Linked DNA regions of Homo sapiens. The gene in region 2 interacts genetically with the main gene of each other region. Each region holds a gene or a part of one and is shown on either strand. Other genes may lie near its edges. The genes, in order: DDAH1, RIT1, DDX21, TBC1D3G, POLD1, ILF2 and PRPF38B.

Region 1 (3,500 bases), about 71 Mb from region 2:
TAGTATCCTAGCATAAAATAACTTTAAAAACAACACAAAAATGAACTCTGCACAAAATTTAAAATATTGATACCTCATCCTTACCTCCTCAACATAATCAAAACTATCAAAAAACAACACTCCTCCCCCTAACAACAAGAATATCCAAATTAAAAACCCACAAAAACAAATATTATTTGGGGTTTAGTCATGTAGACTCTTTCTACTCTTTATCAATATCCATACAGTTTTAAGGAATCTGCTGAAATATCATGCTAGGAAGGTATAACATGATCTTTTCCACAATCTGGTTCTAATCTACCTTTATGGTCCCATTTACTTTTACTTTTCAGTGTTTGTATGGAAATGTGCTTCATATTACTAGGCAGACATGCCCACTCAGTCATGGGGGCACTGGATAGTAAGATTTATGGTATGAAAAGCAGAAGAGAGACAGCATGCTTCCTGTAGAAAATTCATTCCTAAGAGTGGCACATAGTAAGCCCTTCCTGACTCACCAGTCAGGTAAATCATTCACTTCTAGTGTGGAATATGTCAAGGGTGGAGAGAGGCCAAGAGCAATCCCATAATGGAATACCCTTCACATGGAATGAAACATCAGGAATGGGGATGAGCTTATGCACTGTATGAAAGGCTGAGACATACAGATGAACAGGTCACAGACCCAGTTTTCCAAGATTACAGTTTAGTGGAGGAAACTGACAGAAAAATAGATAATTATATTACAATAAGAACTAGCAGGGCACCATGCCAAACATTTTACATTTATTATCTAATCTCAAACTTCTATTTTACAGATGAAGAAACTGCACTGAGAGAGGTCAAATAACTTGCTTTAGGTCACATAGGTAGATTCAAACCCAGATCTGTGCAACTCAAAACGTTTCTTAATCATCTCACTTTGCTCTTTCTCAACTTCTGCAGCAGGAAACTACCTCCTACAAACTACATAACACCTACTTTTTCACATTCACTTGATACTTATTATTCATTCTCTGGCAGTACCATTAATTCTTTTCTTGTATGTAATCCTGTTATGACCTGCTACCGTCTGGTATAGGTAAAGGACTTAACTGGACATCTCTCTTGCACTTTTGAATTTAAATTGTTCTTGAAGGGATAGGCCCATAGAGGGGCTCACCTATGGAGTGGGTCTTTCTTTACAGCCCTGATTAGAAACCTTAGATCTAATCCAACATGTGGGCAATTAAGAAGTTAAAGACACTCCTAAAGATTAACTTTTCTAAGAAAATTAACAACATATTCAATTTAGCCCTCTTTATAAAATGGATATGCCCAGAAATAATATGAAGACGCTTGAGAGAATAAAAAAACAGACCCAAGTAGCTCTTTTGTTACGAATTGCAATTTAGTTCTTCTTATGCAGATTTTCTTTTTGGCTGCTTCCAAAACACAATAATAGCAGCTTCCATTTATTATTGTGTGCAAGGGAACAAATGAAGACCGCCTGAGCCCGGGAGTTTGAGACCAGCCTGGGCAACATGGCGAAACCCTGTCTCTACAAAAAAATTAGCTGGGTGTGGTGGCACACACCTGTAGTCACCTCCTCAGGAGGCTGAGGTGGGAAGATCATAGAGGTTGCCACCAGCCGAGATAGTGCCACTGCACTCCAGCCTGAGCCACAGATAATCTGTCTTGGAGTCTAATCCTTAGTCTTAAAAACCATAAAAGACTAGACCTACCATATTCTCACAATTACTTCTTCAGCTTCCTTCTTTCTAAGGCCTACGTTAACATGTAATCTAGTAGTGTTGCAGGCTTAGCATCCCTTCTACCTAGATCCCCTAGAGAGATAATTGCTACAAAGTTCCCAAAGTTTTTGGAATAAGGACAAATTTTACTATGAGTTTTTGTGCAGTTTTGCTCTCTTCAACCAGACTGCTACCTCCTTGAATGCAGGTCCAGGCATAATGAGGTGGACAGAGCATGGGCTTCAGAGTCAGAAAGGTCTGGGTCTGAAGCCTTGCTCAGCCACACACTAATTGTGTGACTTTGGGAAAGTCACATATGCCCTGTGAGCCTCAATTCCCTCAGCAGTAAAATGGGATGGGAATGCTATACCTATCCTCCACAGGGTAACTCTGAAGATTATTTAAAAAAAACCCCAAAACAGATAATGTACATAAAATGCTTAGCACAAGCTTCTAGCAGATATTAAATGTGTAATAAAAGTCGGTTCACTTCCCTCTTTGTTTCTTGCAAGTCACTTGACATATAGCAGGTGACCAAAATATGTTTGCACTAACTGGTTCATTTCTTCATTCCTTTCACCTTTTTAAACGCTACAGAGAACCTCAGGAGGGCACTGTGATGAACTGTGTGGTCAATCACATGGGTAAACAATTGAATTCCCTCAGAGAAACAAGGTATGGTCTATGTCCAGAAACAGAAATACAACTCATTATTTTTAATGTGAAAAAACATGGCTAAAATCAACAAGGCCAAGGTTTGTCTGTTTTTCAAAGCCATACAGAAGGGCACTATACTCTGTGGTCCTAACTCAAATGACTCTGGATGACAAAGTAAGACAACAGGGGGTTGGATCTGGAATTACCTGCAGAGTATGTGGCACCTAAGGGCATTCACAGAAAGAAAGAAAAGAAAAACTTTTGTGTATATCAAACCGAACACATAAGCCTCTGTCAGGTTGTGACCCCAATTTAGTAAAATAGTCCATAAACCCAATGGGCAGATTGACTTCTTCATAGTAGAGTGGGGCTGCCTCGATATGCAAGGTGGCAGTTAGGATTTGTGAAACTTCTAGACAATAGCTTTTGGTCAGTCTCACAAACGTGCTTTTTTCCAGGTGCAGGGAATGGGATTCCACTATGTCTAAATCTCTGTTTATTATGTGCTGTTGAGGGTGGACCAAGATGGCCAGTCTGCTCATGTTTGCAGTCAGAACTGGACGGTCATCCTGTCACATGAATTGGACCTAGTTTACCCAAGAAGTTCAGAATTTCTTCCAGACAACTGGGGAGGCAGTTCTCTGAGCCAGAGGTTTACTAAGTAGGACCCCAGTGGTTTGAGGACCTCAGAGAGATCCTTAGAACATGTATACACAACCACTGCTACCTGGTCAACCTAGACACAAACAAAACAAAATCTAGAAAATCTATTACTCACATTGACTTACTTTTCTAAGCAATTGGGAAAACTGTGTGTGGCATATTTTGGCCCACACATTCAGGCTAAGTGCTCCCACCACTCATAATCACCAGATAACTGCCAGTTGGCTTTCCATTTTAATTTGTGATCTGCAGAAGCTTCATTGTACTCTTTACCCACAGATAAATAAATCACCCATGTCTCTTAGTACCAGATGAATTGAAAGAGAAAGAAACATGGCAAGACTACATCTCTTAGGCCTGACTTTATTCACTGGATCTAGCGGTCTGGGCAAATTCCCCACCTCTCAGTGTGACTCATGCATGTCCGGAGGTGACTACAAAGCAAAAGCATGGAATGTCATACATTCC
Region 2 (4,042 bases):
ATACAAAAAATTAGCCAGGTGTGGTGGCGGGCGCCTGTAGTCCCAGCTACTTGGGAGGTTGAGGCAGGAGAATGGCGTGAACCCAGGAGGCGGAGCTTGCCGTGAGCCGAAATCGCGCCACTGTACTCCAGCCTGGGCGACAGAGCGAGATTCTGTCTCAAAAAAAAAAAAAAAAAAAAAATCATTCTTTCACTTTTCATTTAGTGTATTTACTTATAACAACTTTAAGTAACCCTTGATCAGGTAGCAAATGTGCTGTCATTTTCCATATGTGTTTTTCCTGTCTCCTCCCAAGAGGTAATCTCTTCAAATGAAGGGGGATTCCATGGCATGCTCCCTAGCACTTGACATGGGTGTCTTGTTCATGGTGGGCACTCAAATTTTTTGAATTCATATTTTCCAGAATATCACATCTCATGGTTATGTTTTTCTGAAAACAACTCTTTTGCAATGATTCCAAAAACTCTACCCACTGATAGGGAAGCAAAGGAAAGCCCAAGTTGTTTAAAAGTTTTGTATTATGTCATACAAACTGTCTTCACATACAAGTGCATTAAAAAAATTATCCCCCCCTCCTCCTCCCCAAACATCACAGTAGACCAATTCTTGCTAATATATGACAAAGTTAAAACATATGTCCCCTCTGAATTCTAAACAGCTAATTCTAGACACTAACATCTGGATCTTATAATTTACCGGTCTGGTATGGACATGAACAGTTCCAGTGCCTTTCAACTTATCCCTGAATTTTTCTCTTCTCAAAGTTCTAGGCAGTAATTTTAATGCCCTCAAATTAGATAAAGCTGATTACTTAGAGCTTATAAATTAGCTACACTTTATGACACTAAGAATAGAGCTATGACTTATGCATATCATACCTGTCAAGCTACCTAGCACCACGAATAGAACTAATATTAATGGATGGACTAATACAAGGATCTAATATATGACAGTGATAGTCTTAAAAACACCGATTTGTTATTTTCCTTATATATAATCCAAATTCCTTTCTATCCTTCTGGCAATGTTTCTACTGCCTGACTACCTTAAATAACTATATAGTGTCAATTTCTTGCTTGGGCCAGGTGGTGGCTCATGCCTGTAATCCCAGCATATTGGGAGGATTGCTTGAGCCTAGGAGTTCGAGATCAGCCTGGGCAACATAGTGAAACCTCATCTCTATTTAAAAAAAAAAAAAAAAAAAAAAAAAAATATATATATATATATATATATATATCTCTTAATGTTAATAACAATTCCCTAGGTCACTAGTAATAAGAAGCTATGGGCTTTAAACTTAAAAGGTGCTAAACCAGTTTAAATGTAAAACATTCTCATAATAGAATTGCACTGTATTTCTTTTCTACTTTGATGCTTTTCCAAAGTGCTATAGTTCCTGTGAGATTTGTGTCCTGCACAGAATCAAATGCTAGGTCTTTCACTTTTGGATGGCTGAGTACCATAAAACATGATTTATTTGGTAACAAAAATGTTTCCAGGAGTTTAAAAAGGGACCACTACTCAGAGCTAAAAAAGTTCTAACAGTCACTTTTTAAAAAAGCTAGTTTATCATTTGTTTATAAAGAAAAACACAACTCTGTCCTACTTCCTCTAATAAAAATGGAAAATATTAAGATGAGCTGTGTGCTTATAAAGAGGTGCTACACAAGTCATCTTACGTTTCTAGTCAACACAAACATTGCTTCAGTGACACTTAATATTCAATACATGATGCATTACTCTTAGCATTTTTGCATTTACTCTCCGCATATAACAAGGTCAGATATCAAAACAGTCCTGATCTTAGACAACTCACTACCAATATTTAAAGCTGTTTCCTCCTAGGACTACAGTTCCTAAACTATGCACAGGGAGCAAAGTGGTATTCCCTTAGGATAAACTTGGTCAAGGCTCAGATAACCCTGAGATGAACTTAGCAAAGTCCTTGTAAAGAAATCTTCAGATGGGAAACTCCACCTATGTGAATTTTAAAGCTTTAAGACTGACCCATTCAACAGAAATAGCAGATTTTCTCAGAGCACTGAGTCTAGTGATTGTCCACGTCAAGGAGGCACACACACAATTTTACCCACACCCCTGATGTCTCTTCTGTATGGAAAATGCAATCAGTGATGAAGGGCCGAAAAAACATCTTGCCAGCTGTAGCTCTTTTACAGAGCACAAAGTGGGAGGAAGCAATGAATATAAATGTGTTGGTGTGTGCGTCTGTGGGGAAAAAATAAACCTGTACAAGGCAATGGCTGATCCAACTATGAATTTTGATTAAACACGTTTAGTAATACAGTTATGATTCCCAAAATGTCTACCTTTGAAGGTAAAAAAAAAAAGAAAACCCTGAAATGAAGAGTAAAATAAGGTTCCCAGGAGAAACCTTCATCACATTTTATGCTTCTGGCTGTTCTCACTTATCCCGGTGAATTTGGGCCAAATGTGTACTTCTTAGAAAAGCGAAGCTTGTACTGAGAATACTGTTCTGAACCTACCTTTTTAAGTCCCTGCAAACATATAGCCCAACTTTCCCAAATCTCACCACTCCATAGTCTGCAACAGGTGTCAGCCTCACAGGTATCTGCTGAAATTTGGCACTGATCTCATTAGCCCCAATTTCCCTACATGATTTTTGTTCTGTCTCTAGGAAGCATAGTGTGAATAGAAGAGACTGAGGTCTTTCTCTGGGATAGTCCCAGGAAATTGAAATTAAAGGATAATGTGGAGTGCAGAGCCAAAAACTTCCCTTGTGAACTTAGTCAAACACACATGGTATACATATTCTCCTGGGTATAAACAAATTTACATTAATTAATAGCGCAACAGAACCCAAAACATTGGTAGAACAAATTCTAATGTGACAATTTAAAAGCAGACAGTGCTCCACTGGGTTAATAAATCATACTTAACTAAGAGACAATACTTTAAATACCACATCATTAAAAACTCCTAGTAGGCATGTCCCTCTTATCAGTTAAGTGAAAGAGCAAGCACCATACTCAGTACTGCAGGTTACTGGACTGCTTTGATACAGCACTGCAGTTCACAGATAAACACTTCACATCTTCTCTTCAAGTTACTGAATCTTTCTTCTTCCGGAATGGTGATTTTAGCCTCTTCCATACACTGTTTTTGGGCTTAGATTTTTTCTCCATGGCCAGTACTGCCTCCTTTTCTTTCCTACGTATCTCCCGTACAAGGGCATGGAAAACATCATCAATATAGTAGCGGTATGCAGCAGATGTCTCAAAAAAGGGACAGCTGAATTCTCGGGCCAAGGCCAATCCTTCTTCCTTGGTGACCTTTAAGGGCAAAATGTGAGAAAAGATAACAGTGAAAAACAATTAAATTGTCCAAAAACCTGAATGCACCACCACCTTAACACAAAGAAAGCTTCTCAATTCTGGAGGTGTTCAAGCATACAGCACTAATTTTTGTAATTTTAGGCTAGATTACTTCTAAGGTTTCTTATTCTGCCTTCAAATGATATGATTCTATTTCTAGTCTACTTTTTTTTTTGAGACAGAGTTGCGTTCTTGTTGCCCAGATTGGAGTGCAATGGCATGATTGTGGCTCACAACCTCGGCCTCCCGGGTTCAAGTGATTCTCCTGCCTCAGCCTCCTGAGTAGCTGAGATTACAGGCATGCGCCACCACACCTGGCTAATTTTGTATTTTTAGTAGAGACGGGGTTTCTCCATGTTGGTCAGGCTGGTTGTAAACTCCTGACCTCAGGTGATCTGCCCACCTCGGCCTCCCAAAGTACTGGGATTACAGGCGTCGGCCACTGTGCCCGGTCTCTAGTCTATTTTTAAGATACTTTTTGGAACAGGGAATAGTTTTAGATATCAAATACACAATCTTAATTTTCCCCATACTTTTTATTTTAAGAAAGATAAATAGGCTGGGCTTGGTGGCTCACACCTGTAATTCCAGAACTTTGGGAGGCTAAGGTAGGAGGATTGCTTGAGCCCAGGAACTTGAGACCAAGCTGGGCAATATGGTGAGACCCTACTTTTACAAAATTTTTAAAA
Region 3 (2,699 bases), on a different chromosome or scaffold from region 2:
AGTTCTATATTGCCAAACATCATTCTCTTTTTGCTATATAAATCTTCTATTTCTAATTATTGACCAAATGCTTTACTGAAACTCCGCTTCTGGCCTTTGTTTTGGGATCTGTTACTTTTGTTGCCACCTCCTGATCGCTGTCCTCTCGGGCCTCTACTGCCTTCCCGCTGTCCTCTGAATCTTCTGTTTCCGTCCCGCTGTCCCCTGAAGCCTCGACTGCCTTCCCGCTGTCCCCTGAAGCCTCCATATCCTTCCCGTGGTCCTTCCAGTTCTGGTTGCTCTGTGGCCACAGAGAGCTGCCAGCGTCGTGAATCATGCCATTTCTCCTGTTGAGAGAATGTTTTGTTTTTGTGTGCTTTAATTAGTATTCAATTTTTAAAAAGCATGAGAAAAACAAAATATTTGCCACTTCTTCAAAGAAAAGGTGATAACATAAGTGCTTAACAAGTCACTGGTCAAAAATAACACTGGCCACCCATCATGGTCCAAAAGCCAGTGTCCCTGAAGTGTGGGAAAACACAGTTTCATTATGAGAAATAGCCCTCATCACTACTTCATTTATTAAGTTATTAAACCATTTATTCAACTCAATTGCTACAGGGTATCTACAGCCAAAGGTAATAAAACAAATATATTAAGCACACATTTCTCACAGTATTGAATAAAGATGTAACAATTTTAAATGTCTATGAAAACCTGTAGGCTGGACGTGGTGGCTCATGCCTGTAATTCCAGCACTTTGGGAGGTGGGTGGATCACCCGCGGTCAGGAGTTCGAGACCAGCCTGGCCAACATGGCGAAACCCCCGTCTCTACTAAAAATACAAAAAATTAGCTGGGGGTAGTGATGGGCCTATAATCCCAGCTACTTGGGAAGCTGAGGCAAGAGAATCGCTTGAACCCGGGAGGCGGAGGTAGCAGTGAACCGAGATTGCACCACTGCACTCCAGCCTGGGCGACAGAGCGAGACTCTGTCTGAAAACACACACACACATGCACACACACACACACACACACAAAATCTATATACCATATATAAGTGTTAAAGGGTGGGGAGAGCTGGATATCGTTCACAACTTTGTATAAAGGAAATATAGAAACCAGGTGGGTTCAACTACAAAAATATCAGAATTAAAAAGTTAGGGGGGAATATTCCAAAATTTAATTATCGATTATCTCTTACTAAAGGAACCAGAACTATTGTTTCCCAATCTATTATTCTCTATTTTCATAATTAACATTCTACAATTTAGGTATGTTAACTTTAAAATCTAAGGGAAAAGAATACCTGTATTTCTGTTACTGATGCGGTAGGTACATCAAAGCAAACACCCTAGAAATCAAAGCAAATGGAAGTTAATCCAACCAACGCACATGAAAAATACTCCCTTTAAAAGACCACGTATTCTTTAAAAAAAAGAAAACAAAAAACATAAAGCAAAAAAACCACCAGGTATAATTTTAGATGAACTTTAGACCAAAGCTAATACATTATAGCTGCCAAAAGTACACTGCAGAAAGACAAGGAACATTGAAAAAAAGAACCCCAAATGATTTAGAACTTTCTAACTATAGACAGAGTCTTAGCTATTACACTGTGCTAACCCCCTAGTGGCTATTAGCTACATTTTATTGCTGAGCAAACAGGCTTGGAAAGGTTAGCTGACTTGTCTAAGGCCCCACAGCTATTAAATGGCACAAGTATTTAAAATCTAGTCTGTATGGCTCTAAAACCTATAGTCTAAACTATATACTGCCTTCCATCAGAAAAGCAATGCCAGCTATTCAGAATGACCTAATTAAAAGCAGAAAAACAAGTGATCTTCTATTGTTGATTTTCTGGTTTTTCTTAATTCAGCCTTCTGTAAGAGTATGAAAAAAATAATACAGGACACCATCTTTTTTTTTTCCCTCTTAAGATAGGGTCTTGCTCTACTGCCTAGGCTGGAGTGCAGTGGTGCAATTAACAACTCACTGTAACTTTGAATTCCTACAGGTGCATGCCACTACATCTGGCTTTTTTTTTTTTTTTTTTTTGGTAGAGACAGGGTCTCACTACATTACCCAGGCTGGTCTCAAGAATTATCTTCCCAGCTCAGCCTCCCAAAATACTGAGATTACAGGTGTGAGCCATGGCACCTAGCCAGGACACCATCTTTAATATTAAGTGCCATCCTCTCCAATCAAGGAAATCGTCTAAAAATATAGTCAAACTATGTGTTAACTAATACAGGCACTCCTCTCCCTGCTGTCTTCAACTGCAATATTTTATAAGGAACACCCCTTTCACCCCAAAATTTACCCAATCATAACATAGGTATCATCACCTACTGGTGGATTTTGCCATTCATGGGAATCTTCGCTTACATATTTACGAAGTAGAGTATAATCCCAGGCATTCACTGGGTATAGAGGTAATTAGAAAACAGTTTTTGCCTTTGAGTGTTCTTGAGGCTCTCCATTAGCAAACACAGCAAGGTAAAAGTTTACCTGCATAAACATGTGTCCTAAAGACTCTGAAGTACAGATAAAGACGCCCCTAACATTGCCTGGTAAGATTTAAGGCTAAGCAAAGTCATAAAAGCTACTTTGGAGGAAAAGATTTATATATATATAAAATTTTTTTTTTAAGACGGAGTTTCACTCTTGTTGCCCAAGCTGGAGTGTAATGGCGCGATCTCGGCTCACCGCAACCTCTGC
Region 4 (4,300 bases), on a different chromosome or scaffold from region 2:
GATGGGGGCCGCCCAGGGTGGGCGACCGGGCCCTGACAGGAGTCCCTCAGGGAGTGACCACATCCCCCCGCCAGGGTCAAGGGAGCCTGCCCTGAGACCTGCCCGGTGTACTCTGGCTGCACCAGGGGCCCACCCCACTTGACAGCCCCAAGGCCCTTGCAGGTTCTGACCTCCCAGCATCCACCTGCCTCTCCCTGCACCCGAGCCACACACCCTGCGTTTCAGAAGTGGCACCGCTCGTCAGCTCCCTCCCGCCCTACCTCCCCAGGGATCCTCTGTCTCTCCATCCTGTGATCCCTGAGGGATGGGCTCCTGGCTGGGCTCCTCTTACCTGGCCCCAGATCCCTTCCCAGCACCAGACCCAGGTCTTTAGCCGCGAGCCCTGCTGCCTCCCTGGCCTCACCGTGAGATGCCCAGAACGGGGCCCTGCCCATCTTCTCCCCCGTTCTCCTAGGGCTACAGCCCCCATTGTCACCATGCCTTTTCCCCTCACGGGACAGTGAGGGCTGTAGCTCTAGGGGAATGGGGGAGAACAGGGGCAGGTGGGCCCTCAGAGACCTGCTGGACAACAGCCCTGAGGCTGGGCCAGGCGTCCCCTCACCCTGTGGCCATAACCCTTGCATCTCACCGGGGTTGTCTCCAAGTAGACAGGGCCAGACCCTCAGGCTGCCCCGCTCCTCTTGTGCTCACTTGCCGACAGAACTGCTGAGCGCCCAGGGGCCTGACCTAGCCCAGTCTCCATTCCCACCGGCTCCCTAGATGGGCCCCACACCTCTGGCCTAACAACCTCGGGCTGGACCTGCAGGGGAGTCAGGGAGGAGTTCTGTCCCTGGAAAGGAGGTTGACCCGACCTGGTGAGACATGTCCTGCGTCAGAAAGGCCTTTCTAAAAGCAAACCCATCCCTGAGCTGAGACAGGTGCTTTAGGGGTGAGGGGAGTGCAGAGGACTCACTGTACAATCCCCAAATGATCGACGTTGTTGTTGTAGCTTCGAAAAGGCTTAGGCCCCTTGTCCTCTGGCAGCCCAGCTCGGTGTCCCTGTAGCCCAGAGGGAGCCTTGGTGAGGGGTCCAAGGTAAAGGGTGCAAGGGCCTGGGGGCATTGGCCACCCGTCCCTGCCCTGTGCTCCTAGGGAGCCCAGGACCCTTTGACCAGGGCACACTGGAAGAGGCCTCCCTCCAAGAAGCAGACCGACTTGTACCTTTTCGTATTTCATAATGATGTCCTCTCGCTCTTGTGCCCACCAACTGCCCGCGACCTCTACCACGTCCATCCTGTGAGACAGAATTGTCTAAAGGTCACACTGTACGCGGCGGCTTCGGAGAACACCTGAACCGCTCTCGCCGGGCTCCCAGATGCTGGCTGGCTGCGTAACCCCCATTCCACCGCCGCCCCCAGGGAAAAAGGGGCCAGACCCAGTGGCCCACAGCTGCTCCAGTCTCTGGAGTCTCAAGTCCCAAGCAGGGGTGGGCATCTTCCCAAGGACTTGAGTACAGTGGGACCTAGACAGAGAATCCTGTTGTCCCCCAATGCCATGAAATGGGGACACACCGGCCCCAGCAGGTTGAATGGTTTCCACCTGCCAAGGGTGAAGGGCCCATGATGGGCTATTCCAGGGATGTGGAGGCAGACTGGGGTCAGCGACCAGAGGTCTCTGTGCAATCGGCCTCCTGGGATGCTCAGGGCCTCAGCGATGCCCAGTTTCCTACAGGGAACAAGATCTCTCCCGACTGCTCGGTTCTACTCCGCTCATCACTTTGGCTACCGTGGCTCTTCAGTCTGAACAGTGAAGCCACTTTAGGAATAACGCCTGTTGAGCAGGAGGGTGTTGGGTTTGGGGGATGAGGAAGATCTATTGTACGCATGGAAACCACGTCTCTCGCGGAGGGACTGTGGAGTCCACCATTCTGAGCCGTCCCAACAGGAGGAGGCTTCATTTTCCTGGGTCACTGAGGAAGAACAGTGGGTCCTTGGTCCTGGAGAACAGCTGGATGGACCGTCCCTCCTGGGAATACTCGAGGCAAAAGGAGGGCGAGGCCTCAAGAGGACCACGCAGAGCAAGAAATACCTGGGGAGAACCCTAGTGCCCGGACCCCTTTGAACACAAGGGAAGATAGTCTCCCCTCAGCCAGCCCTCCAGGGCTCCTTCATTTTCCACAGCTGCCCAAGGGCAGCAGGCTCCCCCGGACAAGGGACCATGTGTGTTCAGTGGGGCCCACAGCGACCATCAGGACCCAGCTTAGGGCACAGAGGTGTTCTGAGGACCGTCAGTGGATCTGTACCAGTGGCTCTATACCAGTGGCTCTGCCAGGACCAGGCTCTGCCCCATCGGGATGGGAAACCTGGGCAGATTTGGGATCTAGGGCAGGGAGGTCACAGGGTTCAGGCCTGAATTCCAGCACAGCACACGGCAGGGCTGAGAGCAAAACTCAGGGTCATGTCCGGATTCCCAGGCCGGTTACTGCCTCTCTGACCCCAGACGTCTCATCTGTCGAATGGGGACATTTGGGAACAGCACCCACTCTACGAAGCCACCATGGAGACGAAAGAGCCAATCGTCTACACGGGCAGTGTAGAACGGGCGCCTGGTGAGTGCTCAGGGATGACCCTCCTCGGTAGCTGCCCCACAGAGGCCAACACCGCCCGCACCGTAGCCACTGCCCCCAAGTCCGCCTGGAGGGAAGAGAGCAGGTCACGCTCACCTGATTCTGATGAATCAGCTGGCCTGGGTCATGCCTCTCAGGGAGAAAACCTTTGAGTCCACAGAGCTGCTCACAGATACCACTGCCTGTGTGTAACTGCTGTAGACCACTGAGGCAGACCAGAGAGCAGATAGGTGCTAAGCACCAGTGACATTCTGAGGTCATGGCACGAATCACAGTGGGGCCTTGCCCGGGTCAGCAGCACCCAGAGTCAGGGTCCTCCGCTGCCTGAGGCGTCAACATGCCTGCCTGCAATGTGTTTGTGCACGTGCGTGCACATGTGTATGTGGGTAAACACATCTGTGCACGTGTGTGCTGCTTCTCTGGCCAGGCCCGGCTGCCCCACTCATGTGTGCACCCAGTTCCTCATCACTGTCACCCCCGAGGCCCAGGGCCAGCATCAGAGCATCCATGGCTGCTCCCTAACCTCAGCCCTCCCTGCCCAGGGTGGTCCTGGGATACACATAGCGGTGGAGGGAAGTGACTGCTGCTGTTGGATCTCAGAATACAAAAGCTAGTACTATTACCTAATGGTCTTTTTAGTGTCTCTAATGGTATCGCTTTTTCATTTCTGATATTTTAACTGGGTATTTCTCTCCATGACCCTTGGATATTCTAGCTAGAGGATCCTGTGGGGAAAGTGCCGGGCACACAGTAGGGGCTCACTCTTCTAGACATGTTATCTAAAACCTGGTTCATCTGTCCTTCCACACAGGGCCTAGGGGATGCCAAATTCCAGGGGCCAGAAAGAGCTTGGGATAAAAAGAAACTTCAAGGGGACGGCTTTGACCTGGGCTGAGTCTGCCTGTGCCATCCAACTGGAGTCTCAAGTCCTGAGGCAGGACGTCCAGATGCCCCAGTGCAGGGTCCTCCTGATCAACACCTGCTCCCCTGTACTCATTAGCAACCTCACCCACCCTACTCTCAAAGCACACTTGGCTCTCGTATCCAGGAGCTCTGCATCTGTAGATTCAGCAACAGCAGATGGAAAATATTCAGAAAATAAATTGGACGGTTATGTTTCTATTGAACATGTGCAGAGTTTGTTCTTGTCATTATTCCCTAAAGAATCCAGTATCACGACCATTTATGTAGCATCTGCATTGTATTACACATCATGAATAATCCAGAGATGGTCTAATGTCTACGGGAGGATGTGCATAGCTGATATGTAAATACTAGGCCATGTTATGTCAGAGACTTGAGGATCCATGGATTTTGGCATCCCCGGGGACCCTAGAACTAATCCATGGATACCAAGGGATGACTGTATAAACTCACTCAGGAAGGCTTCTCATTGGAGGAAGGTCCCAGTTCAGGACACACAGGGACATCTCCCTGGACTACTGTCCATTCATCCATCCATTCATCCATTGTCTCCCCCCACCCCCCCATCTCGGACTGTCCCAGTGACAGCCCTAGCAAGAAGAGACAAGAAACAAGTTCACGTTGTCCAGTTTTGAGGTAATGGAAGAAGTTGCACCAGTATGAGAATAGTGGGTCAGTTTTCTACAGGATGCAGAAAGCATATCGGGCAGCCTCGGGGTGCGGAAAGGAGCCTGGCCTCTCTAGCAGCCACACAGGCCTGCAGTAGGATGG
Region 5 (3,500 bases), on a different chromosome or scaffold from region 2:
TAAATGGATTAAGGGCGGTGCAAGATGTGCTTTGTTAAACAGATGCTTGAAGGCAGCATGCTCCTTAAGAGTCATCACCACTCCCTAATCTCAAGTACCCAGGGACACAAACACTGCGGAAGGCCGCAGGGCCCTCTGCCTAGGAAAACCAGAGACTTTTGTTCACTTGTTTATCTGCTGACCTTCCCTCCACTATTGTCCTATGACCCTGCCAAATCCCCCTCTCCAAGAAACACCCAAGAATGATCAATAAATACTAAAAAAAAAAAAAAAATAGTTCTCAAGAATAACTGTAGAATGTGCTAGGAATGCAATATCCTGAGATAAGGAGGGACTGGCTGAAACAGCCCAGGCTCTGTTCCAGTCCCTCCTAGAAACAGGATGTCCTTCATCATTTTAGCCCAACATGTCATGTTGCCTCCAGAATATAAAACCCAAGATGGTCTGCTTTCCAGGTACAAATGGGGTACACACAAATGAGACTCCATCCTCCCGGGGCAACCTTCCTGAGTCTCGGGAGATTGGCTCACAATGAATCCTATGCTTCGGTTTTCCCTTGTTGCCTAGCTGTAAATAATAAATTTACTTCATGTAACTTGAAAAAAAAAAAAGAAAAGAAAAGAAAAAAAGAAATTATTGGCCAGGCGCAGTGGCTCACACCTGTAATCCCAACACTATGAGAGGCTGAGGTGGGTGGATTACCTGAGGTCAAGAGTTTGAGACCAGCCTGGCCAACATGGTGAAACCCTGTCTCTACTAAAAATATAAAAATTAGCTGGGCGTGGTGCCAGGCGCCTGTAATCCTAGCTACTCGGGAGGCTGAGGCAGGAGAATTGATTGAACCTGGGAGGTGGAGGTTGCAGTGAGCCAAGATCGCACCACTGCACTCCAGCCTGGGTGACAATGAGGCTCTGTTTCAAAAAAGAAAAAAAAAACAAAACAAAAAACAAAAAAAAAAACAGGCTGGACATGGTGGCTCACGCCTGTAATCCTAGCACTTTGGGAGCCCAAGGCGGGCGGATCACCTGAGGTCAGGGGTTCGAGACCAGCCTGGCCAAAATGAAACCCCGTCTCTACAAAAAATACAAAAAAATTAGCCGGGCGTGGTGGTGCATGCCTGTAATTCCAGCTATTCGGGAGGCTGAGGCAAGAGAATGGCTTGAACCCAGGAGGCAGAGGTTGCAGTGAGCCGAGATAGTGCCACTGCACTCCAGCCTGGGCGATAGAGCAAGACTCAGTCTTGGAAAAAAAAAAAAAATAAGAAATTATTTATAGCCTTGAAGAATATTACAGGGACACGTGGCAGATCTAAATAAGAATCGTCTATTCAATAACGTCACTGTCTCATGTTAAACTGCATGATGATGACAATGACACTGTAGTTCTGCAGGCGGACATCCCTGTTCTTAAGAGCTGACTGCTGGAGGCCAGGTACGGTGGCTCACGGCTGTAATCCCAGGACATTTGGAGGCCGAGGCAGGGGGATTGCTTGAACCCAGGAGTTTGAGATCAGCCTAGGCAACATGGTGACACCCTGTCTCTATAAACAATATAAAAATTAGCAGGGTGTGGTGGCACACACCTTTAGTCCCAGCTACTCGAGAGGCTGAGGATCAGCTGAGCCTGGGGAGGTCGAGGCTGCAGTGAGCTGTGACCACCCCACTGCACTACAACCTGCATGACAGAGTAAAATACTGTACCAAAAAAAAAAAAAGAGGCCAGGTGCGGTGGCTCATGCCTGTAATCCCAGCACTCTGGGAGGCAGAGGCACGTAGATCATAAGGTCAGGAGTTCAAGAGCAGCCTGGCAAAGATGGTGAAACCCCATCTTTACTAAAAATACAAAAATTAGCCAGATGTGGTGGTGCGCGCCTATAGTCCCAGCTACTCAGGAAGCTGCAATAGGAGAATCGCTTGAACCTGGGAGGCAGAGGTTGCAGTGAGCCAAGGTCGCACCACTGTACTCCAGCCTGGGTGACAGAGCAAGACTCCGTCTCAAAAAAAAAAAAAAAAAAAAAAAAAGAGTTAACTGCTGGAGTTTTCAGAGGTGAAGTATCATGATGACCACAACTTTCAAATAGTTCAGCCAAAAAAAGGACAAAAGGTACAGGTATATGCATGTGCTTGGATAAAGCATAAAGCAAATGAGGTGTCATGCCAACAGCCAGTGAATCTAGGCAAAGGGCCATGGCTGTTCACTGTACTCAATTTGTACCTTCTCTGCAGGTTTGAAACTTTTCAAAATATTAAGGGGGAAATATATAAAATGAAAATAGTAACAAATTTACAAGGTGGGCAGAAGAGTATGTAGAAATCTTTTTGCTTTTAATGCAGGGAGTATGTAGACGTCTTTTTTATTGTAATGCAGGGAGTATGTAGACGTCTTTTTTATTGTAATGCAGGGCATATGTATAAATCTATTTGCTTTTAATGCATCATTCTATAAGGAGAGCTAAGAAACTGGTTTCCTGGGGGACAGGGTAGAAGACTTCATTTGCTAACTGCTTTATTGAGCTATAATTCACATACTATACAATTCACCCATTTAAAGTATATATAGTTCAATGGTATTTAGTATGTTCAGAGTTAGGCAACCATCACCACAGTCAATTTTAGAACTCTCTCATCACCCCAAAAAGCCTAAATCCTTTAGCTCTCTCCCTGCATTCAGCCCATCTGCCCCCACCCCTGGCAGCCACTCATCTAACTTTCTGTCTCCATGGATCTGCCTATTCTGGGCATTTCCTATAAATGGGATCTTGGAATATGCAGCCTCTTGTGTCTGGCTGCTTTCTCTGAATGTGTTCATCGCTCATGTGTGTGGCGGCCTTTCGTCAGTGCTGTGTCCCTTTTTTGCTGAGTACTTTTCCGCTGTATGGCTAGAACACGTCTGACGTATCCCTTCATCAGTGGATGGACATTAGGGTTGCTTCCACCTTTTGTGAGTGGTGCAGCCGTGAGCGTGTGCAGGGGGTTTTGTGTGAGGAAGACTTTGACTGCGTTTGTGCTCTTTGGGTGACAACCGCGTACATGTGTGACTTACAGGAAGAAGCAAGCGTCGTTAGCGGCTCTGGCTTCGGGTTGTGCAAGTAGCCAGAGAGGGACAGGGAGTGATGATCTGCGAGGAGAGACCCGGGTGGGACAGAGGAAGCGCAGGGGCTTGTGGGAGCCCAGAGTCAGTGCTGAAGCTGGAGGAGGAAGGAAGGAGCTGACTGGCTGCCCTTGGTCAGTTGGCTGTGGCTGCGGGGGTGCGGTGGGAGGGACGGTGTCACCAGGGGCAAAACCTGGGCTCTTGTTAGTGGAGGCACAGCAGCATTAGGAAGGAAAGGCCCCTGTGTGTCCCCTCTCATTGGCCCTGGCACAGGATGAGAGCTTGGCAAACACTGTCCTCTGCCCCTCTCACGACCCTTCGGTAGCAAGCACTTAACAGAGATTCAGCAACAAAATGACACCACGTGCTCGCTGCAGGCCAGACACCAGTTTTCTCGATGAGTGAGACAC
Region 6 (4,048 bases), 2.2 Mb from region 2:
CAAACCTGAAGCCATTGATTCAAGAAGCTCAACAAACCTCAAGTAAGATTTTTTTTTTTTTAAACGGAGTCTCCCTCTATCGCCCAGGCTGGGGTGCAGTGGCGCCATCTCAGCTCACTGCAACCTCCGCCTCCCGGATTCAAGAGATTCTCCTGCCTCAGCCTCCTGAGTAACTGGAATTACAGGCGCCCGCCAGCACGCCGGCTAATTTTTGTATTTTTAGTAGAGACGGAGTTTCACCATGTTGGCCAGGCTGATCTCGAACTCCTGACCTCGGGTGATCCACCCGTCTCGGCCTCCCACAGTGCTGGGTGGCCACAAGCCACCGCACTCGGTCCGCTTTTTGTTTGCTTGTTTTTTAAAAATTAATAATATTTATTTTAATCTGGATGGTGGTTACGTGGCCAGAATACGTTTAGACTTAAGATGTTTACGTTCTGCTGTAGTAAATTAAATATCGAAAAAGTACTTATGGAAGGGAGGTAGGTGAGGGATAAAAGTCTACAAGTTGGGTTCAGTGTATACTGCTCGGGTGATGAGTGCACCAAAATCTCACAAATCACCACTAAAGAATTTATGTAACCAAGCTGGGCGCTGTGGCTCACGCCGGTAATCCCAGCACTTTCGGAAGCTGAGGCGGGTGGATCACCTGTTTCCATGGACATGGAAAACCATGTTTTCCACACTAATTCAATCAATATACTCCTCTCCTATCTAAAACCTGTTTCTCCTGCTTCGAGTTTGTAGACGTGCAGTGTTCATAGTTGCCTAAACTCCCTTTTCCCCATCAACTTCAACTGCTAGTGGCAAAAATAGCTGATATTGGTTGCATTTTTGAGGTAGGAAAATTGGCAAGATATTTTCCTTCACTAAAGAAACGTAGATTACGTATGCCGTACAGGGCAATGAAAAAACTCCGATAGCAGAGGATGGTTTCGATCCATCGACCTCTGGGTTATGGGCCCAGCACGCTTCCGCTGCGCCACTCTGCTATCTAGAACTAAAATTTCTCATGATTGTTATAGAACACTACGTAGTCGTTGTCCTGACTTCTTTAGTGCCACCTAATGTCTGATCAAAAATTCGTCATTACTATAGAACCAGTTCTTATTGGCTAGTTCCTGACACAGTAGGCGTTTTTTATTGGTTCATAAGCCCGGTTTGACAAAGTAAGCCAATAGGCATAAGCGATGGGGTAAGGCGGGAGCCAATCGCACCGGGTTTTATTGGGACACGCCGGCAAGACGCCTCTTCAGTTGTCTGCTACTCAGAGGAAGGGGCGGTTGGTGCGGCCTCCATTGTTCGTGTTTTAAGGCGCCATGAGGTAAGTGGGTCGAAGCGGTCGAAAGGTTTCAGGTATTCGACGGAAAACTTTGTGAACGTGGGCCGAAAGAAGTCGGAGTATCAGAAAGGGCCATGTATCCGGGGGCTGGCCAAAAACCTGAGAACTCCTGGTCTAGGATAGTGGGAGAGATGGAGGCCGGTAGAGGCGGGGAAACTTGGGCCCGGGATGGGGTTCGGGCCCAGGAGTGGGGAGGGGGGTTCGACACCTTTGTCTCTGAAGGGTTGCGATGAGGGGGTGTCCTCAAGCCCCTGGAGGAGCTCCCCACCTTTCCCCCGCCCCCGTCATCCGGGCTGAGAATGCTGGAGCGAGCCGCATTCATCCTCAGTGCGAAGGCCTTGACATTAGGACACGCCCGATAAATGTGTACCTTAGTGAAGAAATGAGCAATCTTTAGCCTCCGAAGTATTAGGATTCGTGTGGCCCAGGATTATGGGTTATTAAGTGTAGGGCTCACTGAGCCCCATCATTACTTGATGGGGGTTGGATTAACTTAGAGGAGGTTATGGGGGTGTAACTGGGCACCATTTGGAATGGGGACAAGTGTAAGTGTGAGTGGGGTCTCTTGCCTACCGTTGGGAGGTTCCGAGGGATGAAAGTAGCCAACCTAAGATGATATGGCCGGTGGGTATTCCTTCAATGAGGTCAAAATAAAATCTGCATTTCTAGGGGTGACAGAGGCCGTGGTCGTGGTGGGCGCTTTGGTTCCAGAGGAGGCCCAGGAGGAGGGTGAGTACCAGCTTTTAGCATCTCTGCACTTGGTTGTTAGTTTCTGCTTGTCATCTAAATAGGAGTTTTAGAGTAGACTAATGTCACTTGGTTTTGCGAGAGCCAACTGTGGTCTTTTCCTGCACTCCTGTTAAATGAATTTGGCCCCACTATGCTAAGAATGATTCTTTCCCTCCCCGGAGACTTTGTCACTCATTCTGAGGACTGACATGTTTTCAAAATTGTTGGCGTGTTATTTACATCTCGCTTGATTCCTACCTAGGGAATAATTTGGCTGTTTTTCATGTTTTAGGTTCAGGCCCTTTGTACCACATATCCCATTTGACTTCTATTTGGTGAGTACCTTGGGTTAATGATACACATTTTCTGGTCACTGTTGAAATGGAGCCCAGTATCTCCCAGTTAATGAAGTTAGATGGTGGTTGAAGAGGGCAGACACAGTGCCTCACGCCTGTAATCTCAGCACTTTGGGAGGCCGAGGCAGATGGATTACCTGAAGGTCAGGAGTTTGAGACTAGCCTGGCCAATATGGTGAAACCCCGTCTCTACTAAAAATAAAAAAGTTGGCTGGGCATGTGTCTAATCCCAGCTACTTGGGAGGCTGAAGCAGGAGAATTGCTTGAACCCGGGACGCGGAGGTTGCAGTGAACCAAGATGGCACCACTACAAAAAAAAAAAGATGGTTGAAATAGGGAGGGAAAGTGATTTGTGAAAAGATTTGGGGTTTTGAGTCAACTGTGTGTTGCTTTACATACAGAAACAGTGTAAGCATGGTGGGGAGAATAATTCCTTGGCTACTGTTGGCATTAAACATGATTATAATCTTTGTTCTGAACAAGTAATTGTATTTATGGTATATCTGTTACTATAAAGATAGTGATAGCTTAAATTATGGCTATTCCAGCTTTTATCCTTGTTTGAACTTTTTATTTTTTTTGAGACAGTCTCACTCTGTCACCCAGGCTGGAGTGCAGTGGTGCAATCTTGGCTCACTGCACTGAACCTGGGAGGCAGAGGAATCAGGACCTCTGCCTCCAGGGTTCAAACGATTCTCCTGCCTCAGCCTCCTGAGTAGTTGGGATTACAGGCACCTGCCACCATGCCCAGCTAATTTTTGTATGTCTGTTTAGTAGAGACGGGGTTTCACCATGTTGCCCAGGCTGATCTTGAACTCCTGACCTCAAGTGATCTGCCCACCTCAGCCTCCCACGGTGCTGGGATTACAGGTGTGCGTGACCCACTGTGCCTGGCCTTTGAATAAATTTTTTTTTTTGAGGCAGGGTCTCACTCTGTTGCCCAGGCTGGAGTTGCAATGGCGCGATCTTGGCTCACTGCAACCTCGCTTCCTGTGTTCAAGGGATTCTCTCACCTCAGCCTCCCAAGTAGCTGGGATTACAGGTGTGAGCCACCACGCCCAGCTATCACCTCAGCCTCCCAAGTAGCTGGGATTACAGGTGTGAGCCACCACGCCCAGCTAATTGAACAAATTAAGCAGTAAAAACAAGTGTAGAATTTTCTGTTTTTAACCTTTTTCTGTCGTAGTAATAGAAAAAACAATCTCTCCTGTATATTATCTTCGGCAAATAGAATGTAGTTGTTTACTTCTGGTTTAGTGTGAAATGGCCTTTCCCCGGGTCAAGCCAGCACCTGATGAAACTTCCTTCAGTGAGGCCTTGCTGAAGAGGAATCAGGACCTGGCTCCCAATTCTGCTGAACAGGTATGTTCTTTTGGCTGTCTTCCAGAAATGTCTCTAAAGCAGTTAAAAGTATTGGTAAAGAGTAACTGTTGGTAAGGTTAAGAATGGTGTTAACAGAGCCTGAAATCCACAAAGGGTTTAATTGTTCTCCTTATTTCTCATTGTGGGTGGAGATAGCCAGGTGGATATATAAACAAATTACATATGCATTCTTATTTTTACTGGGGACAAAGAGTTGTTCTCTTCCCATATATTCAAGGCCAGAATGAAGTGTTTTTAA
Region 7 (3,500 bases), about 47 Mb from region 2:
ACATGTCTGTCTATTTCCTCAGCACCTTCCTTCCCATCTTTCTTGATTTTTCTAGGTCGGGTTTTAATCTGTTGATCAATATTCTTTTGAACTGGAACTGGAATTCTTGGAAACAAGGTAGAAAACCACTCCAGTTTTGTGAGAAAAGATCGTAGCATTTCTCCAATGGTCATTACACAGCCTCCACCAGCCTTCACATCTAGGTCCTACAGAAACACAAAAGATACCCTAGCCGTCAAAAAAAGTATTTCCATATATACATGAATATTATAAAAATATTACCATCTTTGGAATCTCAATACAAAAAAAACTAACAGAAAAATTTTATTTTCATATCCTGATCTGACAATGAATGAACAGAAATATTTGGGCTTAGTGTGTGCATGCAAGTGAGAACAAACCCTGCAGCCTCACAGGCATAAAGGGAACTGATCTCACTCAGTTAACAATATGAAAAAGCCCCTTACATTTCTAAACTATGCGGAACGATTGACTTAAATTTACATTCCACATACCTACTATGTATTTATTTCTGTGGACATATTTGCACACATCATATACCTTGCACCATAACCTAGCTACATATGATCTACTTTAGATAATTCCTGTCTAAAGGTTATCTTTTAACAGCTCTAATATAAAATGAAGCCCTAATAAAACTGGAAGCAATAGCAAACCAACTGCCATGAAGCAGTGAGGTTTCTAATTTAGTTATGTAGAAAATAAATAAATGAACAAATAATTGGAAACGCATAATCCATGATGACCATTGTCTCTGAAAAGGGTCATTACCGCATGAAGGCCTTCTTGCTATGCCCTCTCACAGCTCAGGACATGTTAGTCAGCTATTGTCAGTCCCAAACCTATAGTGCAAGCACACAAGGAAAGTGAGATTTGTTATCTAAACAGGAAAACAAGAGCTAAAGGTAAAACTGCTTGCACTCACACACATTTAAGTGTTCAGATATACAGTATTTCCAAATATAATCGCTGCAGATATCTAAGGAAGAAAACAATAAGTTAGCTTAAATAGAGGACCTCAGATTTGTAAACACAATAAAAAACATAAAATAGAGGCATCCAGAAACAAAACCAATACAACACCAATTATGAAGAGGAACATGCTTTTTTAAAGACAGAAGGGAGAAGCACTTCAGTCTGAAAAACTGATCTAAAGATAAAAAGACCTTAAAGATTGTGATTTAAAACACGTTTTGCTTCTTCTGAGTGAAGTAACTCAGTTAACAGGCAAAAAAAAAAAAAAAAAAAAAGAGAAAAATAAAAATTCTCCATGTCTAAATGAGATTTTTTTTTTTTTTAGGTGTGCATGTAATAACAAAACACAATAGATTTCCATTAGAACCATCCTTTAATTCAATAAATTCTTTGGATGAACTCTGTAAATAGACTACTGACACATAGCACTCAAAAAGTCTTATGAACCTTAAAACACAAAGTAGTAGACTGGGTAGACATAGGGACAATACAGCTCATCATTTCATTTTTGACATGTTGGACTTCACCATGCAAGTAAATTAATGCATATATGATATTTTGTTTTGTTTTGAGAAAGGGTCTTACTGTGTTACCCAGGCTGGAATGCAGTGGCAATGATCTTGGCTCACAGCAAATTCTGTCTCCTGGGCTCAAGTGATCCTCCCACCCCAGCCTCCCAAGTAGGTGGGACTAAGATGCATACCTCTATGCTCAGCTAATTTTTAAACTTTTTTTTGTAGAGATGAGGTCTCACTATATTGCTCAGGCTGGTCTTGAACTCTCGAAGTGTTGGGATTACAATGTGAGCCACCACGCCCAGCCAATGCATACACGATTTAAATCTAACTTAGTATTTCAGATTTCAAATTAGGGAGACTCGAATTACAATTTAAAAAATTTCTTTTTTAAAGGTGTGTGTGGTGTACTAGGAGTCAGAAAACTGGAATTAAAATTTTGTCACCTTGAACAAGTCATCCAAACACTTAGCCTATTTATGTAACACCCAACTCTTCAATTCTGCACTTCTATGCAAGTGGGAATACTGATATTTGGAAGAAGCTAGAGGGTGAAGAACTGAAATGTTCCAGAAGAAAAAAAAGCTACAATTAGTATTCTATGTGCATATCTTTTATTATCTGTTCGATCTTGAGCATGCCCCATCTTGAAAAGTCACTATTAACTATACAATTCAGGATCAATACAATACACAGAACATAATTAAGAAGAGAAAATTTTCCAATAGTTACCAAACACATTTAAACAATTTTAAAACAAGAAAATAAAACTTCAGAAATTTACCCTAAAATACATAAAAGCCATCAGGTCTCAGTAAAAGGACATTAATTCCAAAAGTATCTCACTGAAATAAATTTAACTACAGGAAGTTCTTGAAGACATTAAACCACCAATAAATAAAAGATAATAAAAATATGAGAGTAATCAGAAGAAAACAAATTATTACCCTTGTTGACATACCTCTTCATCATCAAGGAAGGATTCAAACCAGTCCCACAGATCTGTAGGGGGCTGTGTATATCTAGAATTACAAAAGACTATTATTAAACACATGTGAATTAAAATGAGATATTTACTGGAAATGTACATAAATGTACGCTCACCTTATATACATAAATCCAAGCGCTCTAATATATGGAGAGTCTGTGTGTGTTATAAGACCCATCACTTGCTTTCGAGTTAACTTCAGGGTAAATAATTTGTATAACAGGCAAAATGCTGTAGAAACAATTCCTCCTGTTCCAACACCTCGAACCTTTAGGGGAAACGAGTTAAGAAAAAGTAGTAAAATAATTAACGGACTCTTAACACCAATTGATTAATCCTGTTAGGTATCAATAACAATCCATAATCCAGAACTAAGGAGCATTAAAAAGTAACACTTTTCTAACCCTATTTCACTGAACACTTGAATTTGGATTAAAAAAATTGTCACTCAAGTGTATAATTGACAGGCCTCTAGTTCTCTAAATATAAACTTAGTTATTAGACACAGAAAAACTGAAAAATGCACGTACTTCTACTTACCCCTCCGCACATCCCTGTCTGGCCCGCTGTTTTCCTGCTTCCTTTCTCCCATGGTTCAACGTGCGTGACCTGAAAATAGAAAAGAGGAACACAACAAACATTCATACTTTGAATTTGTTTAAAAGCCTGATAAAAGTAAACCCAAGTCCATAATAGAGCAGCTCTTCCAAAATTATTTTGGCATTAAGTATATGTTTACTGATATTAAGTGTGTAAATCATTTTTGGAAAAACTGCTTAGACATTTAGACAGCACCCATAAAGCTACTAGGGTTTAACAAAACCTTAATAGCTTTGCAGAGGAGAAATCCCACTCAACTAGCTTTATAAAGAGCTGATATCTACATCTGGGAGTCAGAAAATTTCTATAGTCTCACTTGGTTGCAAAAACTATTTGGTAATATTTTAACTTTGATAATATTTGACAATTTAACTTATGGGTTGCTTAACATTTTCCTTTAA

What was found.
Region 1: changes in RIT1 (region 2) and DDAH1 together harm fitness more than expected from each alone (negative genetic interaction), as found in Homo sapiens cells (one large-scale study listed by BioGRID).
Region 3: changes in RIT1 (region 2) and DDX21 together harm fitness more than expected from each alone (negative genetic interaction), as found in Homo sapiens cells (one large-scale study listed by BioGRID).
Region 4: changes in RIT1 (region 2) and TBC1D3G together harm fitness more than expected from each alone (negative genetic interaction), as found in Homo sapiens cells (one large-scale study listed by BioGRID).
Region 5: changes in RIT1 (region 2) and POLD1 together harm fitness more than expected from each alone (negative genetic interaction), as found in Homo sapiens cells (one large-scale study listed by BioGRID).
Region 6: changes in RIT1 (region 2) and ILF2 together harm fitness more than expected from each alone (negative genetic interaction), as found in Homo sapiens cells (one large-scale study listed by BioGRID).
Region 7: changes in RIT1 (region 2) and PRPF38B together harm fitness more than expected from each alone (negative genetic interaction), as found in Homo sapiens cells (one large-scale study listed by BioGRID).

What each region holds. Positions count from the first base shown.
Region 1 is NC_000001.11:85,325,660-85,329,159, forward strand, and holds part of DDAH1 (N(G),N(G)-dimethylarginine dimethylaminohydrolase 1), read right to left. Parts: intron 1-3,500. UniProt on the Homo sapiens protein: Hydrolyzes N(G),N(G)-dimethyl-L-arginine (ADMA) and N(G)-monomethyl-L-arginine (MMA) which act as inhibitors of NOS. Has therefore a role in the regulation of nitric oxide generation.
Region 2 is NC_000001.11:155,897,308-155,901,349, forward strand, and holds the end of RIT1 (GTP-binding protein Rit1), read right to left. Parts: intron 3,312-4,042; coding exon 3,081-3,311; 3' UTR 501-3,080; downstream 1-500.
Region 3 is NC_000010.11:68,980,170-68,982,868, reverse strand, and holds part of DDX21 (nucleolar RNA helicase 2), read right to left. Parts: intron 1,333-2,699; coding exon 1,288-1,332; intron 327-1,287; coding exon 57-326; 3' UTR 1-56.
Region 4 is NC_000017.11:36,322,384-36,326,683, reverse strand, and holds the start of TBC1D3G (TBC1 domain family member 3G), read right to left. Parts: upstream 2,801-4,300; 5' UTR 2,702-2,800; intron 1,274-2,701; 5' UTR 1,273-1,273; coding exon 1,201-1,272; intron 1,039-1,200; coding exon 953-1,038; intron 1-952. UniProt on the Homo sapiens protein: Acts as a GTPase activating protein for RAB5. Does not act on RAB4 or RAB11.
Region 5 is NC_000019.10:50,387,347-50,390,846, reverse strand, and holds part of POLD1 (DNA polymerase delta catalytic subunit), read right to left. Parts: intron 3,188-3,500; exon of another isoform or gene 3,043-3,187; intron 1-3,042. UniProt on the Homo sapiens protein: As the catalytic component of the trimeric (Pol-delta3 complex) and tetrameric DNA polymerase delta complexes (Pol-delta4 complex), plays a crucial role in high fidelity genome replication, including in lagging strand synthesis, and repair.
Region 6 is NC_000001.11:153,668,194-153,672,241, reverse strand, and holds the start of ILF2 (interleukin enhancer-binding factor 2), read left to right. Parts: upstream 1-1,248; 5' UTR 1,249-1,319; coding exon 1,320-1,324; intron 1,325-2,011; coding exon 2,012-2,071; intron 2,072-2,363; coding exon 2,364-2,406; intron 2,407-3,665; exon of another isoform or gene 3,666-3,684; coding exon 3,685-3,789; intron 3,790-4,048. UniProt on the Homo sapiens protein: Chromatin-interacting protein that forms a stable heterodimer with interleukin enhancer-binding factor 3/ILF3 and plays a role in several biological processes including transcription, innate immunity or cell growth.
Region 7 is NC_000001.11:108,695,310-108,698,809, reverse strand, and holds part of PRPF38B (pre-mRNA-splicing factor 38B), read right to left. Parts: intron 3,109-3,500; coding exon 3,040-3,108; exon of another isoform or gene 3,030-3,039; intron 2,768-3,029; coding exon 2,616-2,767; intron 2,534-2,615; coding exon 2,473-2,533; coding exon of another isoform or gene 2,459-2,472; intron 1,250-2,458; exon of another isoform or gene 1,001-1,249; coding exon of another isoform or gene 961-1,000; exon of another isoform or gene 953-960; coding exon of another isoform or gene 947-952; exon of another isoform or gene 793-946; intron 207-792; coding exon 1-206. UniProt on the Homo sapiens protein: May be required for pre-mRNA splicing.